Regions from separate parts of the Homo sapiens genome. Here region 1 is linked to region 2. The links come from fine-mapping of genetic effects on gene expression. Tissue or cell type: esophagus muscle. Region 2 holds a variant in brackets; the other region holds the start of a gene. All regions are shown on one strand. Distances are from middle to middle.

The links. PIP is the estimated chance that this variant, and not a neighbour inherited with it, causes the effect.
Region 1: GLI3 starts here. The variant in region 2 is fine-mapped to the expression of GLI3 in esophagus muscle (GTEx, PIP 0.99).

The regions. Positions count from the first base shown.
Region 1 is chr7:42,232,900-42,241,007 of GRCh38, reverse strand. It overlaps GLI3 (GLI family zinc finger 3), which reads left to right and starts at 3,799. Exons shown (of 15, transcript NM_000168.6): 1 at 3,799-4,037. RefSeq lists an enhancer at 3,074-4,055.
Region 2 is chr7:41,933,165-41,941,272 of GRCh38, reverse strand. It overlaps LOC124901618 (a long non-coding RNA gene), which reads left to right and starts at 7,683. Exons shown (of 2, transcript XR_007060294.1): 1 at 7,683-7,897. The variant G/A (reference allele first, on the strand shown) is at 3,609.

The sequences.
Region 1 (8,108 bases), 300 kb before region 2:
ATGGACTATCCTCCTGGAATTTTCCAATAATTAACTGGGTGCTACTGTGCAGGGAGATGGAAGAACTGCCATGGTAAGTGAGGGGAGAAAAGTATTTGTATAACATCGGCCCATGGTAGGAATCAGAGGAGCACGTGAAGTTTGTTTCCAGGTTCATCCTTTGTTCTCTCTCTTGCGTATCCTTCATTCCTCTCCCACTATCTTTTGCAGTGTTGTTAGGAGTTGAATTATGTCCCCCAGAAGAAAATGTTGAAGTTCTAACCCTAGGAACCTCAGAATATGATCTTGGAAACAGGCTTGTTGCAGATGTAATTAGTTAAGATGAGGTCATTCTGGAGTAGGGTGGGTCTCTAACAGAATATAACTCGTGCTTTTATAAGAAGAGAAGCCAGAGACAAAGGGAGAATGCCATATGAGGACAGAGGTGGAGACTGAAAGGGAGAAGCTGCAAGCCACGGGACACCCAGATTGACAGCCACCACCAGAAGCCAGTAAGAGGCAAGGGAGAAATTTCTTTTCCAGGTTTCAGAGGGAGTGTGGCCCTGCAAGACACCTTACTTTTGGACTTCAAGCCTCTAGAAACTATAGGACAATACATGTCTGTCCTTTAAGCCATCCAGTTTTTGGTACTTTGTTACCATGGCCCTAGAAAACAAATGCAAGTATCTTCAAGTATCTCCTACTTCACTGTTGCAACAACAAGAAAGAAAGTCTGTCTTAAAAGCTTAACTATTCTGAGGACTTACTATATTAAAATTTCTTAAGATATCTGCATTTGAAAAGAGAACTGATGAGAGATGGCAATAAGTCAATCTATGATAGAATTTCAGACATCAAGGAAGGGCAGTGCACAGAATCCTGTAAGTCTCTTAGTGCTGTGTATCACTACAAACAAAGGTTGTAGCATTGTCTTTCTGGGTGTCTTTGGGTTTTTACAGATGTCTCAGGAGCAACTGCAGGAAAGGGAAAGAGAGAAAGGCTTAGGGGGATTGGGCTCCGAGACCTCACTCCAATTTCAACCATAATAACTCTTCTATATTTTGGGATTCTACGTAAGATTTAATTTGGAAAGCGTTCTGGTGTTAACACAGAGAGAAAGTCACTGCATTATGACATTATTTAACCCACACTCAGGCAAAGTGGGTTTTTTACCCCTCCACTGTTTCTGCAAAATGTGCCTACTTATATGTATGGGTTTACCATTAAAGCAGAGTTGGACACATAAGAGACACAGCATTATTCTTCCTCTTTTTTGTTTAGCTATTGTGACGGGCATAGGGGGAAAGATTAGCTGCTTTTGCTTTGTTCTTGTCTTTTAAGAACTGAAAAATCAAGATCTTCATGATTCAAAATGTGCTATAAGACTGAAGTAAGAGTCGAAATATCTAGTTTATTCTATTATTTGATGATTTATTGGCTGTCTTTCTTTGTATTTATTTTTTGCCATTGGGTGAACAGAGTAGGCTATCAGGATGTACTATTTGTATTCATGTGATTGAGGCAGAAGCAGTACATGAATACTAAAAACAATTGTAACTGATGCTGGGAGTATATAAAGGAAAGAGTGGCTTGCAATTCTCTTCAATTGTAAAAGCATAATTCTTACACACTTGTAGCCCTCTATACTTTTCCATGTATTTCTCATTGGAAACCCTCAGCCATCCTGGGAGGTACGCGACCTGGCACTCCTAACACTATCCCCTAGATGGGCTCAGAGCCTATGGAGGCTCAGAGAATCCTCCCAGGCCTGAGGCCAGTTAGTGAGCGCGGAGATGGGGCTGCCACAGGGCTTCTGAGTCTCGTGCTCTCTGCGATGAGTCAGTGGTGTTTTGTTTTTTCCTGAGCCGTGAGGTCGAGGGAAATCTTAAAACAAATGGCTAACTAGGGCCTTTAGCCCCACCTTACCTCCACCACTTCCACCATAAAACCTTAAGTCTGTCTCTGCACTTGTCATGTCATTGTGACAAGGAAGGAGTCCCAAGAAACAAACAATGAATACCACCCTCAATTTCGTTAAAAGATTCTTCAGTTAAGCATTTGAATCTCAAAATGCTCTTCAAATTCTAATAGCTCATCATTCATCCACCCACACTCTTCCTTCAGTCAAGACACTTGGCGGCAACGCCACACAAGCAACCCGGAGCTCCGGGGCACTTCTGGCTGGGTGGACCCGGCTTAACCAGAAAGAGGGGATGTTGGAATGTCACAGGGGCTTTCTTTTCTTTCTTTTTCTTCCTGTGTTTCCCCCCGAGAACTCCTTTTTTAAGTTACATGTCCAGGTTGGATATATTAAAATGACGCAGATGAACAAGGACTGGATGGTCGAGGAAGGAGGCCAAATAACTTTTACTAGCATGGGCCTCTGAAAATGAAGCAGGGACAGAGACACTTTGTAGCTCAAGGAAAAGCGGCACGTTAGAGACCAGGCTCCAAGCCTGGGGTCTTTGTTTTTGTGTCTTTTATAAAGTGGCCCATAGGGACAGCAGGCTGTGTGGTGGGAGCTCCTCCTCGCTTCGCGGATTTGGCCCCGAGGGCAGACGAGTCCGGTGGAGAGAAAAACCCTGAACTTCCAAAGGCATCATCCCGCGAGAGGGAGTTTCGGGGATGGCTTTGGGAAAATGTAAAACAAGGAGATGGGGAGCCAAGGATGGGGGGCGGTGGTAATCAGAGAAGCCTTAAAAGAATAAAGGGGAGTCCAGCCCTTGAGCAAGAGTGAGAAAGAGAGGCTGGGTGGGAGAAGATGGGAGCAGACAGGACGCAGCACGAGTGCCAGGGCGCGCATTTGGGGGGTGTCCTGGCGGTGTGGAGAGAGAAGAGAGAGGGCGCGGGTGACATCACGCCCGGGCCCCCTTCCCCTCGCCGGGTGGGTGGGGCTTCGGCGCGCCGGGAGGGCGCGGGGTCAAGTAGGGGGAAGAGGAGGAGCAGGCATGAATGTGTCTGTGTGAAGACCGGGGAGGGGCGGAGGAGGAGGAGGAGGAGGAGAAGGAGGAGGAGGAGGAGGAGGCGGCGGCGGCGGCGGCGGCGGCGGCGGAGGGCGGGGAGGGAGCGCGCGCGTGGCTCGCGGCGCCCGGGCTCCCCCCCAGCCCCCGACCCCGGCCCGCGACGCGCCGCCTCCCAGCCGCCGCCGCCCGCCTCGCAGCTGGGACCCACTCCGGGCTTGGGGACCCGGCGGGCGGGAGAAGCGGGGGCTCCCGGCGCGGCCTGGAAGGAGCGAGAAAGCAAAAGTAAGGCGAGCAGCACTCCAAGTTTTCCCAACTTCGCCCCCTGCGGCGGCAGGCGTCCTGCTGCTCAGCGCGTCCCCTCCGAGCCCGAGAGTGGCTGAAAGAAAAGGGACTGGGCGGGGGCCGGGGCGGAGGAAGAGAGAGTGCGAGGGAGCGAGGAGAGTCCGGCAACATCTGTTAAAACTTGGGGGAGGAGGAGCGCGGGGAGGAGGAGGAAGAGGAGGAGAGAAGGGAAGGAGGGAGCGCGCGGGAGGGGAGCGCGGAGCCGAGGGACAACTTTTCCACCCCGTGAGTAGTGCAGGCGGTGCCAGGTCGGGGCGGGGGGCTTCTCCACCCAGCACGGGGCACCAGGCCGGGATGGGACCTTTTTCCAGAAAGTCGATTGGATGCCAGGAGAGGCGTACGGCTGGGGGTTTCTTTCTTTCTCTTTCCCCTCCCTCCCGCGGTTGAACCAAATCAGAACTGTCACTCAGGGCTTGTGAGTCAGAAGGGATCGGATTACACGATCCCCGAAACTGATGCCGGAGCTGCACGAGCGGGAGGGAGCGGGCAGGGGCAGCGCCACCGGCGCGCTCGCACACTCGCACTCGCGCACACCCGCCGCTCCCACTCACCCGCGCCGCTCTCCCGCCTTCCCCGCGCGCCCCGCGGCCGCCCGCGCCGCACCATGCCCGCGGCGGGCGCACCCCGCGCCCAGCCCGGCCGCTCGCGGTAGCCGTAGCCGCCCGCGGCCGCGCGGAGCGGGGAGCCGCCAGCCTGCGCCCCGTCCGCGGGTCTATGGGAAGTTCGGGGACTTGACAGCCGCTGCCGCCGCAGGTACGTCCCGCTCGAAGTTCTTTGTTTCGCGGACCCCGCAGCCCGCTCCTGCGGCCGCGCCCGCGCCTCCGGGGCCAGAGGTGGTCCCCAGCGTGGGGACGGGATGGAGTGAAAATGGCTGTCAAAAGGCGCCCAGATTTAGAGAGCCGCCGGTGAGGCGTCCGAGCAAGGCTTGCATTCGCTCCCTCCTCCTGGAAGGTCCTTTCCGAAGAGTCCGACCCGCGGACCGGCCGGAGACGGATTGGAGAATTTCACCTCCCGGAGGGGGGACGAAGTTTGCCGCAGTGGTGGCGGCGCCCCTCGCCTCCGCCCCCATCCAAAGGGTTCAGAAGAACTCCGCGAGCCCCGCACGCGCCTGGCTCCTTCCTTTGCGCGGTGGCGCTCTACGGCTCGGGCTTCGGGCGCGCACGGCGCTCGGGATGGGCGGAAGGAGGCGGGAGGCATGGTGGGTGCGCGCGGGGACCTCCGCCGCGGGGGCCGCCGCCGCTGGGGCTTCTCCAGCCCGGGCTATGCTTCGGAGGGCGGGGGTGTGGTGTGAGCGGATGGAGAGAGGCGCGCCTTCGTCGTCATAGAGGAAAAGTGAAAGTTGTACCATCTGTATATGATTTGGGATTCTCTTATTTCTTTTCCTTTCCAGGGGCAGCGCGCACAGACACACAAAGTAACCGTGGTCCATGCAATAATCATTTAAGGTGCCGCGTTTACACAGAGCAGCAGGGGACAGTTACTTTCTTGAGTAGCAGCGGGAAAACGGGCGGGAGAAGGCAGAGAGGGTGTAAATATTGATCCCAAACTTGCAGAGTTTGTGAAGCGACTTTTAAGCAGATTGTCCGAAGCGGACGCTCCACCCCGCACCCGGCCTTTTATCCTTTCCTGAACTTTGTGCTCCTGTCCCCCATTGCACCTCCTTCTGTAAGATGCCGTCCCCCGAGAGGCGCTGCACCCCAGGCTTCCCTGCCTGACCCCGCGTGGAAAGAGGATTAAGGAGGCTCCCTCCGCCGCTGGTCATCCTGCCCCAACTTCTCATCTCCCCAGTGCAGACTGCCGGGTAGATTCTGGCCTTGGGTACAGTGCTCATGGCCCTCTGCCAGTTTATATGTACATATATTTATGTAAAACATTTTCTCCCAGCTCTTTGCCAGCTGTTCCACATTTTCCAGCTGCCACTTCAGTTTGAAATGATGGACTGTCTGCGTCTCCAAGTCAAAGAACCCTTTAGTCAAAGGTATGGAGGGCCGGCCGCTGTGCAAATACATGGCAGTGCCATTAGCCGGGCTGGTATTATTAGTTCTAAAAAATACCTCCTGCTCCCCTTTTCCTCTCCTCCCTCTTCTCTCCAGTTAGGCTTTCCAGAGCACAGTATATACACTTTGCTGAAAATTCGAGTAATTAGGCCTTTCCCTCTTAAATGTGATTTTTGTACAGAATTTGGATGAGGCCGTTTTTTTAGATCCCTGAAATATGTGTCTGGTGGAAATAAATTAACTTTTAAAAATAAAAGAGTTTCAGCTTGAGCGCATTGGGCATGGCGGGTGGGGGGCCTGCACCCTGGCCGTCTGAAATGAGCTCTTTTCAGTCTATTTAAGGCAGGAACCATTCATCCTCCCCATGCTACACTTTTTGTGTTGTTTGATGTCTTAGCATATTATAGACCGAAATCTACAAGAATTGACCTAAAGTATTAATTTTGAGTATTTATGTAATTGCTCGGTAATTTTGAATAGGTGCCTTATTGATTGATTCCTGTAATTATTTCATTTAGGTTTTAGATTAAAAATTAATAGTAGTCTGACAGTTTCTTAATTACATGTGTCAAGATTCTTTTGAAGGAGGAAAATGCTATGTTTTAAAATAGTGAAATAGCCTCAAAATCTCTTAATTTTTCTAAAGCAGAACAGTATTTCAGTTGAGGGGATATATTAAAGCTGCCGGGACTGGTTTTAACAATGTAAACTCTGTGAAGTATCTGAAGAATTTGTTTATGTTAGGAAATATTGGTCTTAACGACCTGGTACACAAACACTTTGGCCAGTTAAACTATATTCAAACCTAAAACAAACATGAAATAACATTTAAATTAGTTGTAATAGCATGCTTATACAGAGTAGAGAGTTTATTTTATACTAAAAGCTATTTAATTAGAAACTCCCCGCCTAAGGGGAGATCCTTTCAGGGTATGCAATTCTTAAAGTCAGCCTAGGGAAGCTTTGGTTTAAGATGCATGAATGAGTCCAATGTGAGAGGTGTCTAGTGAAATTTCACACAAGCAGAAACACTTTAAAGATATAGATTGTATTATTGTTAGTAGGCTGGTAGGTCCAACTCAGATGCCTACCAATTCCCAGTGCCTTTAACATGCTTGTGTTCCTTGACTGAACCTTGATATAAACACATTTCTATTGTATATCTAATTTGCAAAGGACCATAGACAGAAATGAGAAAATTCAATACTGATGAAAAATGGCTCTGTAGAGTTATTTCATTAATTATTTAATGAAAGAATTGTTAATTTATCAATTCGATGTGCAAGCCTAAAAGTTGGACTTTCCTTTGTTTCTTGGCCAGTGAAGTTTCCTTAATTACCTGCATGCTGTAAGCATTTCAGACTTCCTCTGTGCTTAGCCATTTAGAGGTCCTTCCTCCTATGTAAGGTATCCTGCTTACTGAGACCTCTTCTCCCCCTCCATTTTTTGAGGATAGAGTTTGGGAGCTTATGAAAAGAAACAATTTAATGATCATTGTTGCATGCACTCACTTACATGGAGACAGTAATGTACTAAGAAAAACCAGTCTTGAAGGAAAAGTGAATCAATGAGTCATGAAATCCTCAAGAAAACCTTAGCAATGGAATGTTAATGCTTTTAGACTATAGTAGATTATCTTAAAAGTCAGACTTTTCTTCTTTATGCAATTGTTGTAAATCCCCAGCTAAAGAATTCTTTGAAGGAGGTTTTAGTTTTGCTGGCATTCATATTCTGAGGTCGGTCTGATTTGTTTTGGAAGATTCAGTAAATTTTCTGCCAACTTATATCATGAGAGGCAATTAAAATGCTGAAATGACTTTATAGGACACACACACACATACACACACGTTTGTTAAACAAAAGGTTCCACTCTAATAATGACTTCAGGTTGTCTTTTCATTAAAGCCTAGGAGAAGATACTGCCCTTCTCTTCACGTTGTCATTTTTCTAGATGAAAATTGATCTGTTTCTGGTTTCAAAGCAAATAAAGGGAGACAGAATAAACAACAACAGGGCAGGGGGTACTGCTGCAAACTTTTTCAAGTATTTTCAGTGTATTTTTCATCTTTACTTTTATTTGATGGGCCTGTGAAATAGAGCTGTAGACTGGCGAAGACTTTAAATGAAATTTCACACTTTGATGATTTTTTTTAAACTTTGATATATTGACAGCAAAAGGAGCTGCAAAGCTTTTATATAACTTGAGCAGTAACGCCAAGCAGCAGTCAAACGTCTCTATGCATTTGTGTTTAACTGCAGAAGAAAAACATGTCCATGGGCAGTGGAGGTTCTTATCAACCCCCTAATCCCAGATCCCAGCAAACCTTGAGGGCATGCCTCAGATCTTGCTGAAATCACTGTAGACTCTCACAGTTTGCAGATTAAATATGCTATGTGTTCCTGGCTCCAGCAACAGTTTTATGAGCTCACTAAGCTTCCTGTTTTAAGATCCTTTTCTTAAGTTTTTAGGAGCTGCTAAAGGCAATGCTGTCTGGAGTAAGTGGTACTTGTTAATTTAGAGCCACTTTAGATATTTCATTCTCTTTTTTAAAAATTGCCATAATTATTATTTTTAAATTGAAAGGCCAGTCACTCCAGGGAGAGGGAGGAGAGCTGTTTGAAAGAAATTGAATGTTAAATGTGTTTGGAAGTACATTTGATCGCAAACTTTACATGGTGTCTCAATTGTTTTATGGCACTTTTCTTTTGCCTGGCCCCTGAAAATGAGAGACTTTTTCCACTTGTAATTCTAAATGCGCTATATTTGAGTGCCAAATTTCTTCACTACTCATTACCTCTGTGAGTGTCTTTTGGTTTTTTTAAATGT
Region 2 (8,108 bases):
GACAGGACTCAGTGCCATCAGGGATAGGGGTCAGGCACCTCTTGCCCAGAGATGCTTAAGGAGCTATGGTTCTTTGATGCTCTACCATTCTAGGAGTAGTTCAGGCAGCAAGAGAAACATCTTCCTGCCGCTAAGAATTGCTCAGACTTCAGCTGTTGTGGGCACTTACATTACTTAAGTTCAGTTTTTGTCACTCAAGGAAAGTCTTGTTGACAGAGGTGACAGAGGCTCAGAGTTAGGACCCATGTAGCAGAGATCAGCTTTACTGGGAAAAACTGCTTTGAGGCTCTGTAGGGAGCGGAATGAGAAACGGCAGTCACACACTGCCCCCTGGTGTTCAAGAGCATTTACTGTACCTTGGCTGCTTCCAAAGAGACAGGCGGAGCTCAGGCTTAGTCACCTTACAAATGTCCTTCCTAGGTGTTTTGGGTCTTACACATGTTCTTTTCACCTGTCAGTAACGAGGACCAGCTTTAGTGTTTACCAATCTATTTGCGCACTTTTTGGCCATACAACCCCGTGCAGGAAAAATAATCACAGGGAAAGAGAAGTGGGCTCTCCTCCCTGCACCCTTCCCTGCTCCCACAGCAGCCCACCTGGGAGCTGGCATATGTGATGGTTGAAAAGCATACTGCTTTTTACGTGTCATTCCTCAATAAAGTGATTTTCAAAAACACACAAAAAAAGCGTGGACTTTGCAGACAGATCATATTCAAATCCTGGTGCCCTGTGACCCAGAGGGTGGATAAGTCACTTAATCTGTCTGCGTCCCAGAGCGCCATGTGCTAGGAAGTGAGAATTAAAATACAAATGGGTCTGATCTCCAGCAGCTCAGAGGTGGCTGGAGGACTTACAGAGAGGAGGAGGTTTTCAATACAGCACCAGAAAAGCTTCAGAAGAGGTCAGTACTGGGAGCAGTGTATCTGAGAACCAGAGATTGAAATGGCTGTTTCATGAGGGCGATTGTGAACATTAAATGAGAGAACATGGATAAGGTTTTTAGTGCAATTCTGGCACACAAGGAACCACAAATTATAGTTATTAGAGTTCCAAAGGGGCCTCAGTGATTAAGAGCAGTAGGTCTGGGGACAGGATGGAGGTGTTGCTCCGTGTTCTGTGGCAGGGATTGACTAGACCTGGGCAGCCCAATGGAGATATAATGCAAGTCACAAATTAAAGCCACAAATGTAATTTTAAATTTTCTGGTAGCCTTACTTTAAAAAGTTTTTAAAAAGTGAAATCAAGTTTATACTTTATTTAAACCTATAAATCCAACATATTGTCATCTCAGTATGTAACATCAACAATTATTAATGACGCCTTTGACATTTTTTGATTTTGCCAAATCTTCACAATTCCATGTCTGTGCTACATTTGCAGCACATCTCACTTTGGACTAGCCACGTTTCAAATGCTCAATAGTTCCTGTGGCTCATCTGTATTGAACAGGGCAGCTGTAAAGGGCCACCTTGGCAAGGAAGAGGGACAAGACAGACTAGGCACATCCACCCTGCAGTTGAGCTGGAGAGCTTCATTCTGCTGTGTCTGCCTGTTTGGTCTAGGAGACATTAAATCTGTGCTTGTCAAAGAGTGGCTAAGAGATCACCTGCTTCAGAATCTTCGGGGCTGCCTCTTGTTTTTTTTTTTTGTTTTTTTTTTTTGACATGGAGTCTTGCTCTGTCGCCCAGGCTGGAGTGCAGTGGCGCCATCTCCGCTCACTGCAAGCTCCACCTCCCTGGTTCACGCCATTCTCCTGCCTCAGCCTCCAGAGTAGCTGGGACTACAGGTGCCCGCCACCACGCCTGGCTAATTTTTTGTATTTTTAGTAGAGACGGGGTTTCACCGTGTTAGCCAGGATAGTCTCCATCTCCTGACCTCGTTATCCACCCGCCTTGGCCTCCCAAAGTGCTGGGATTACAGGCATGAGCTTCCCCGCCCGGCCCTGGTCTGCTTCTTAAATGAAAAATCAGATTCCTTGTCCCTTTCTTACTGAAATCTCTGGAGGCCAGAATCTGCATTTGAAATAGGCTTTTTAACTGATTTTAAAGTCCAACATCCCATCCCCTTTCAAGTGTAGACAATGCATTACTTGGCACACAAGAAGGCATGCCCAATAGATGCTTCTCCTTTTGGATTAAAAGTCTGGAACCAAGGATTGGGGGTTAATAATTATGGAGGTGGTCATAACTACATTGCCAGGTCTTACCCTTCCTATTTAGATTCCCTTCACCTTGAGTTTAAACCTGGCCCTGTTCAATAATTTTCTCTAACATTCAGCATTCTCCTCTGGCCTATGTGATTTGGTGCAGGCACACAAAGTAAATTCTCCATAATATCTGAGAAGGTGACTCTTACATCCAGTGGAAAACTCAGCCTGTGGTCCATCCATGAGCATGAATGTCCCAATCTCATTTCCCCAGCATGTTCCCTCACCCTGCCCTAACTCCCCAACCCAGAGGAGCCAGAGGGAGAAATTTCTACTTATCTCGTTGTTATGGCCTGAATATGTCCCCCAGGATTCTTGTGTTAGAAATGTAATATCCAATGCAATAGTGTTGGGAGGTGGAGCTTTTGGGAGATGTTTACATCATAAGGGCTCTGCCTTTGGGAATGAATTAATGCTGTTTATATATAAAGGGGCCTGTGTGAAAGAGCTTATCCCTTGTATTCTTCCACTCTTCTGCCATGTGAGGTCACAGTGTTTCTCCCTTCAGAGGATGAAGCGAGAAAGTCCTTGCCAAACACCAGATGCCAGCCCTTTGATCTTGGACTTCCCAGCCTCCAGAACTGTGAGAAGTAAATTTCTGTTCTATATAATTTACCCAGTCTGTAGCAATCTGTTATAGCAGCCTGAAGCCGACTAAGGCACTAGCACCCTGTCTGATTTCTCTCTCCCTTTTCTAGAATCTGCTGCCGTGAAAGCTCTGTGTGGGGAGACAGAAGGATGAGAGCTAGGACATGCCCTGGAGAAGTTTTCCCCATGGTCTTGGGGATTAACATTAGGCTCCTTACTACTTATGCAAATTTCTGCAGCTGGCTTAAATTTCTCCTCAGAAAATGGGTTTTTCTTTTCTACTGTTTAATCAGGCTGCAAATTTCTGAACTTTTATGCTATTTCCCTTTTAAAATGGAATGCTTTTAATAGCACCTAAGTCACCTTTTGAATGCTTTGCTACTTAGCAATTTCTTCTGCCAGGCCAGACGCAGTGGCTTACGCTTATAATCCCAGCACTTTGGGAGGCCAAGGATCACCTGGGGTCAGGGGTTCGAGGCCAGCCTGGCCAACATGGTGAAACCCCATCTCTACTAAAAATACAAAAATTAGCTCAGTGTGGTGGCAGGCTCCTGTAATCCCAGCTACTTGGGATGCTGAGGCAAGAGAATTGCTTGAACCTGGGAGGTGGAGGTTGCAGTGAGCTGAGATTGCACCATTGCACTGCAGCCCGGGTGACAGAGCAAGACTCTGTCTTAAAAAAAAAAAAAGAAAAGAAAGAAATTTCTTCTGCCAGATACCCTAAATCATCTCTCTCAAGTTCAAAGTTCCACAAATCTCTGAGGCAGGGGCAAAATGCCACCAGTCTCTTTGCTAAAACACAAGAGTCACCTTT[G/A]CTCCAGTCCCCAGCAAGTTCCTCATCTCCATCTGAGACTACCTCAACCTGGACCTTATTGTTCTTATCACTATCAGCATTTTTGTCAAAGCCATTCAGCAAGTCCCTAGGAGGTTCCAAACTTTCTCACATTTTCCTGTCTTCTTCTAAGCCCTCCAAACTGTTCGACCTCTGCCTGTTACCCAGTTCCAAAGTCGCTTCCACATTTTCAGGTATCTTTTCAGCCGTGCCCCACTCTACTGATACCAATTTATTGTATAGTTTGTTTTCACACTGCTGATAAAGACATACCCAAGACTGGGCAATTTACAAAAGAAAGAGGTAAAATTGGACTTACAGTTCCACGTGGCTGCAGAGGCCTCACAATCATCATGGAGGGCTAAAGACACTTCTTACATGGCAGCGGCAAGAGAGAATGACAAGAGAAGCAAAGGCAGAAACCCCTGATAAACCCATCAGAGTCAGATATCATGAGACTTATTCACTACCATGAGAATAACAAGGGAAAGACAGGCCCCCATGATTCAATTACCTCCCCCTGGGTCCCTCCCACAACACATGGGAATTCTGGGAGATACGATTCAAGTTGAGATTTGGATGGGGACACAGCCAAACCATATCAAACATACATCTTTAAGCTTCTCAAAACCGAACTTTTCTTTCCTTGACAACGTGACAGTTGAGCCAGGTGGATTGGATCATCTCTTTATTTGAATATTCGTTTACCCATCTGTTGTATTGCAAGTTTCCTGGAAAACAGACTCCACAACCCTGAGCTTTTTATGCAAAATATTTATCGAGTAAAGATCTTGAAAGATGAGAATGGGGCAAAGGGAGAAGCAAAGGCAGAACTTGGCAAATGGAGCAGTTGAATTGCAATACAGTTTCAACAGAGGCTGACAGGGAGCTCTGGACTTGAGACAGCCGTGAGAATTGTCTCAATTGAGACAAGGGAATCAAGTCTTTGTGTCCCCAGAAAGACTAGTCATGGGTGCAGCCTGTGCCCAGGGAGGGGGCAAAATTTTAGATGAGTCAGTTTCCCTTGGCTGAGGATATTTCAGGACAGGGAGTCATCTGAGAGCCATCACTACCCTTCAACAACCCGGGCAGCTGGATGAATGGGTGCCCCAACTGTAAGGGGGATCTTGACAGCAGCCCAGCATCTACTACTGTCCTTCCCTCAAGTTGTTCAGGTTCATGCACTTCATCTAGTGCATTCACCTCCGTCTAGGAACAGATACTCCAGAACTGTGGCTGGCGCTCTTCTTGAGGAAACCTACAAGATGAAGAAAGCTAGTAGAAGGATCTACTCCCTCACCCCTAGCCAATGCAGCAGTCTTGAGGCTACAATATGTACTCACCATCTCTCTCCCCTACCACCTGTTCTAGATGACTCTCATTCTTGATTAGTACCTCTGCTTGTATTGTGGCTTTCTGGTGGGTGACTGAGACCTTCATCTCTCTGAGCCCCTAGTACCATGACATTCTCAGGCCACAGTTGATACACTTACCTATTTCTTGTCAAATTTGGACTGGAGCATACTGAGAGATGTGTCACTGGATCACTTGGGGGACCAAATTTCTTTTTTGCCCTCATTATGTAATGCCTGTTCTACCTCCCTCAGTGACCAACGTCAATTACATCTGCAAGTATGGTGATTCCTTCCTTGATTGCTGGAATCTAGAAACAAAGAGTCTAAAGTTACCAGGCTGCAGAAATGGCTTCAAGTCTAATGCAATGTTCCTTGTGATTGTCCTCTGGGAATTAAGACTTCTAGTTATGTAGAACCTAGAATTTCAGGAATGGGAAGCACAGCTTCTTCAAGTGCACATTTGGGAATAATGATAAGCAGGATCATGCCTACTCCAGTCTCTTGGTTCGTGGACTCTATATTCTACTTATCAGGGTCAGAGCATCATATATGATCGAGCATGTACACTGTACCTGGAGGATGACGTCCCATCTCACAGGACATGATTTTCAAATGGGGCTTCAGGTGGTCATTTGGTACTCTATCAGGCTAGTAGCTTCTAGTGGTGTGATATAGTTCTGTGACCCTCTGATACACTTCCTTTGCCACATCTCCTTGGTCTGAAGAAATATTATGTGGAATTCCACATCATGGATCAAATACTTTGCAAGCGTTTGGTAGTGGGGCTGGCTGAGCCCCTGCAAGCAAAAAAGGCAAACCTGTACCCGGAATATCTGTTGCTTCCAGTCAAGATGAATTTCTACTTTTGAGTGGTAAAATTGGTGCAGTGTAGTCAACTTTTCACCAAGTAGCCAGTTGATCAACTTGAGAAATGGTGCCATATGTGATGGCTCAGCACAGGTATCTATTGCTGGTAGACTGAAGATACAGATGTAGCTAATCAGCCTTAGTGAATGGGAACCTAGCTGTGGGACCCACACATAGCCTCCTTCTTTGCTATTCTCCATACACTGTTCATGAGCCCATCGTGATAGATATGAGGTGGTCAATGACAGAGACTGGATGGTATCAACTAATTTTGTCTGCTTAGTTGCTTACTGGCTCTCTAGTGGTAGTTGCTTTCTGGTGAACCTTAAAACGTGATACAAAAATCTTCATTAATTGTGTCCACTCCACAGACTTAGGCACATACATCTTCTACAGACTGCTTTATTCCCCATCTTCCTATCTTTCTCCTTCCAGGGTCATGACAAAAAACAGAGGCACTCACCACAGACCATAAGTCCATACATATTCTTAAGTTAGATTACTTTTCTTTCTACACAACGTAAGTGATCAAGTGCACTATCCAAGCTTTGCCCTTTGAGAGGATTTAACCTCACCCCTGACTCTCAGAACCACCAGTTGAGTAAGGCTGTATTTCAGGACAGTTTTTCAGCTTGCACCTACACATTCAGTAGCCCATTTGTGAAGCAAAATTGGCCTAATTCCTCCTCTGTCAGTAGGTTACAAGAGCTGAGGAAGAGATTCAGGATGACAGTGGTGAATGACATGAGGGTCTGGGACACATGTTCATGCCCTTTTCTTGTGTCCTCCATCTCTGTGATCATCTTCAATACAACACATCTAACTTACAATGCATTGTTGGTAAGCCTACCTGACCTTACGGCCTTGTAGAGCTAGCAGAACTTATGGCCTCACAGATCTAGCAGAACGGATAGGCACCATTCTAGCTGAATGGTCACTTGAAACCCTAAGGCCCAGCCCTTTAAGAAATCATAGCAACAGGAGCTATTTTTCAACTAGCACATAGTTCTCTACTGCAGATAGTATGGCCTTGCTCCAGAAACTTAGGGGTGTAGGTTGGAATTTTACTATCAGGGCTTGCCAAAAACTCTATAGCACATTGTCTTTCCCATGACAGGTACTACTGAAATCCTAAGGTCTTTTATGTCATATACCTTATGTGGAAGGTCTGTTTGCACTGCAGCCTAGTCTGTTATAGAGTCCTGATCTGCTCTTGACCCCACTTGAAGAATGGTATGATGCTTTACAGAATTATATTAATGAGCCAAAGACAGCATCTTTATGTAAGCATCCCTTATTGCAGGACTTGCCTAGAGAAGACAGTCATCCCTGAGCTTAATGGTATTGCTGTCCATCTTGCCAATAAAATGATTGATTACCTTAGTAAATGGAGTGACTCCAGGCCTTCATTGTCTTGTAGAGTTTTGGCCTTATGAAGTGTATCTACAATACTATGCCCACTTCCCTGGGCATTGTATTCTTTCTCTACCATTTGACTCAGCATTTCTCCTCCGGTTAGTGTGCCTAAGCTTCCAAGGTCTGACCTAGCAGCATGTCAGGAACCTTGCCACAGTGTTAAATCTTGGGTCAGGGGGCAGGGCTTTCACAAAGACTAACTCTTCCTTATTCTCCTTGATCTAGCACCCCCAGGATCCAGGCCCATAGATACTCTCCTGGCCTCTCTTAGTACAGGTTGATTATGTCTTATAGCTCTTCTAAGGTTGTTCTAGTCACCTATTGTTGCATAACAAACCATTCCAAATTCAGTGGAGTATAACAATGGTCTTTCATTATTACTATCTTTCCACAGCTCTAGGGGTTGACTGGGCTTGGCTAAGCAGTCCTTGTTCTGGGTCTCATGCGGTTAGGAGTCAGACACTGGCTGGGGCTGGGTTCATCAGATCACTGCACTATTCTTTTATTTATCAAATATTTATTGACTCTCTATTTTGTGTGAAGCGCCGCTAAGCGGTGAAGATACAATAGTTATTACAGCATAATTCTAGTCTCCTTGGGACAGGATGCCATCTTTAAGAATCTCAGTAGGTGGTAAGTGCTAAAAAATAGTATGAAAGAGCATTATGGACTCATGGAGTCAAACATGGAAGGCTTCCTGGAGTTGGTGACTTATGAGGGGACTCAAGTAAGTGTTGACGAGACGGGGAAAAAAGGATCTTGCTAAGTAGTCTGGGGGTGGGTGTGGGGGGGAATGCTAATGTGAGAAGATCTTAAAGATGGTGACTTTTTCCAGGCCCTTCAA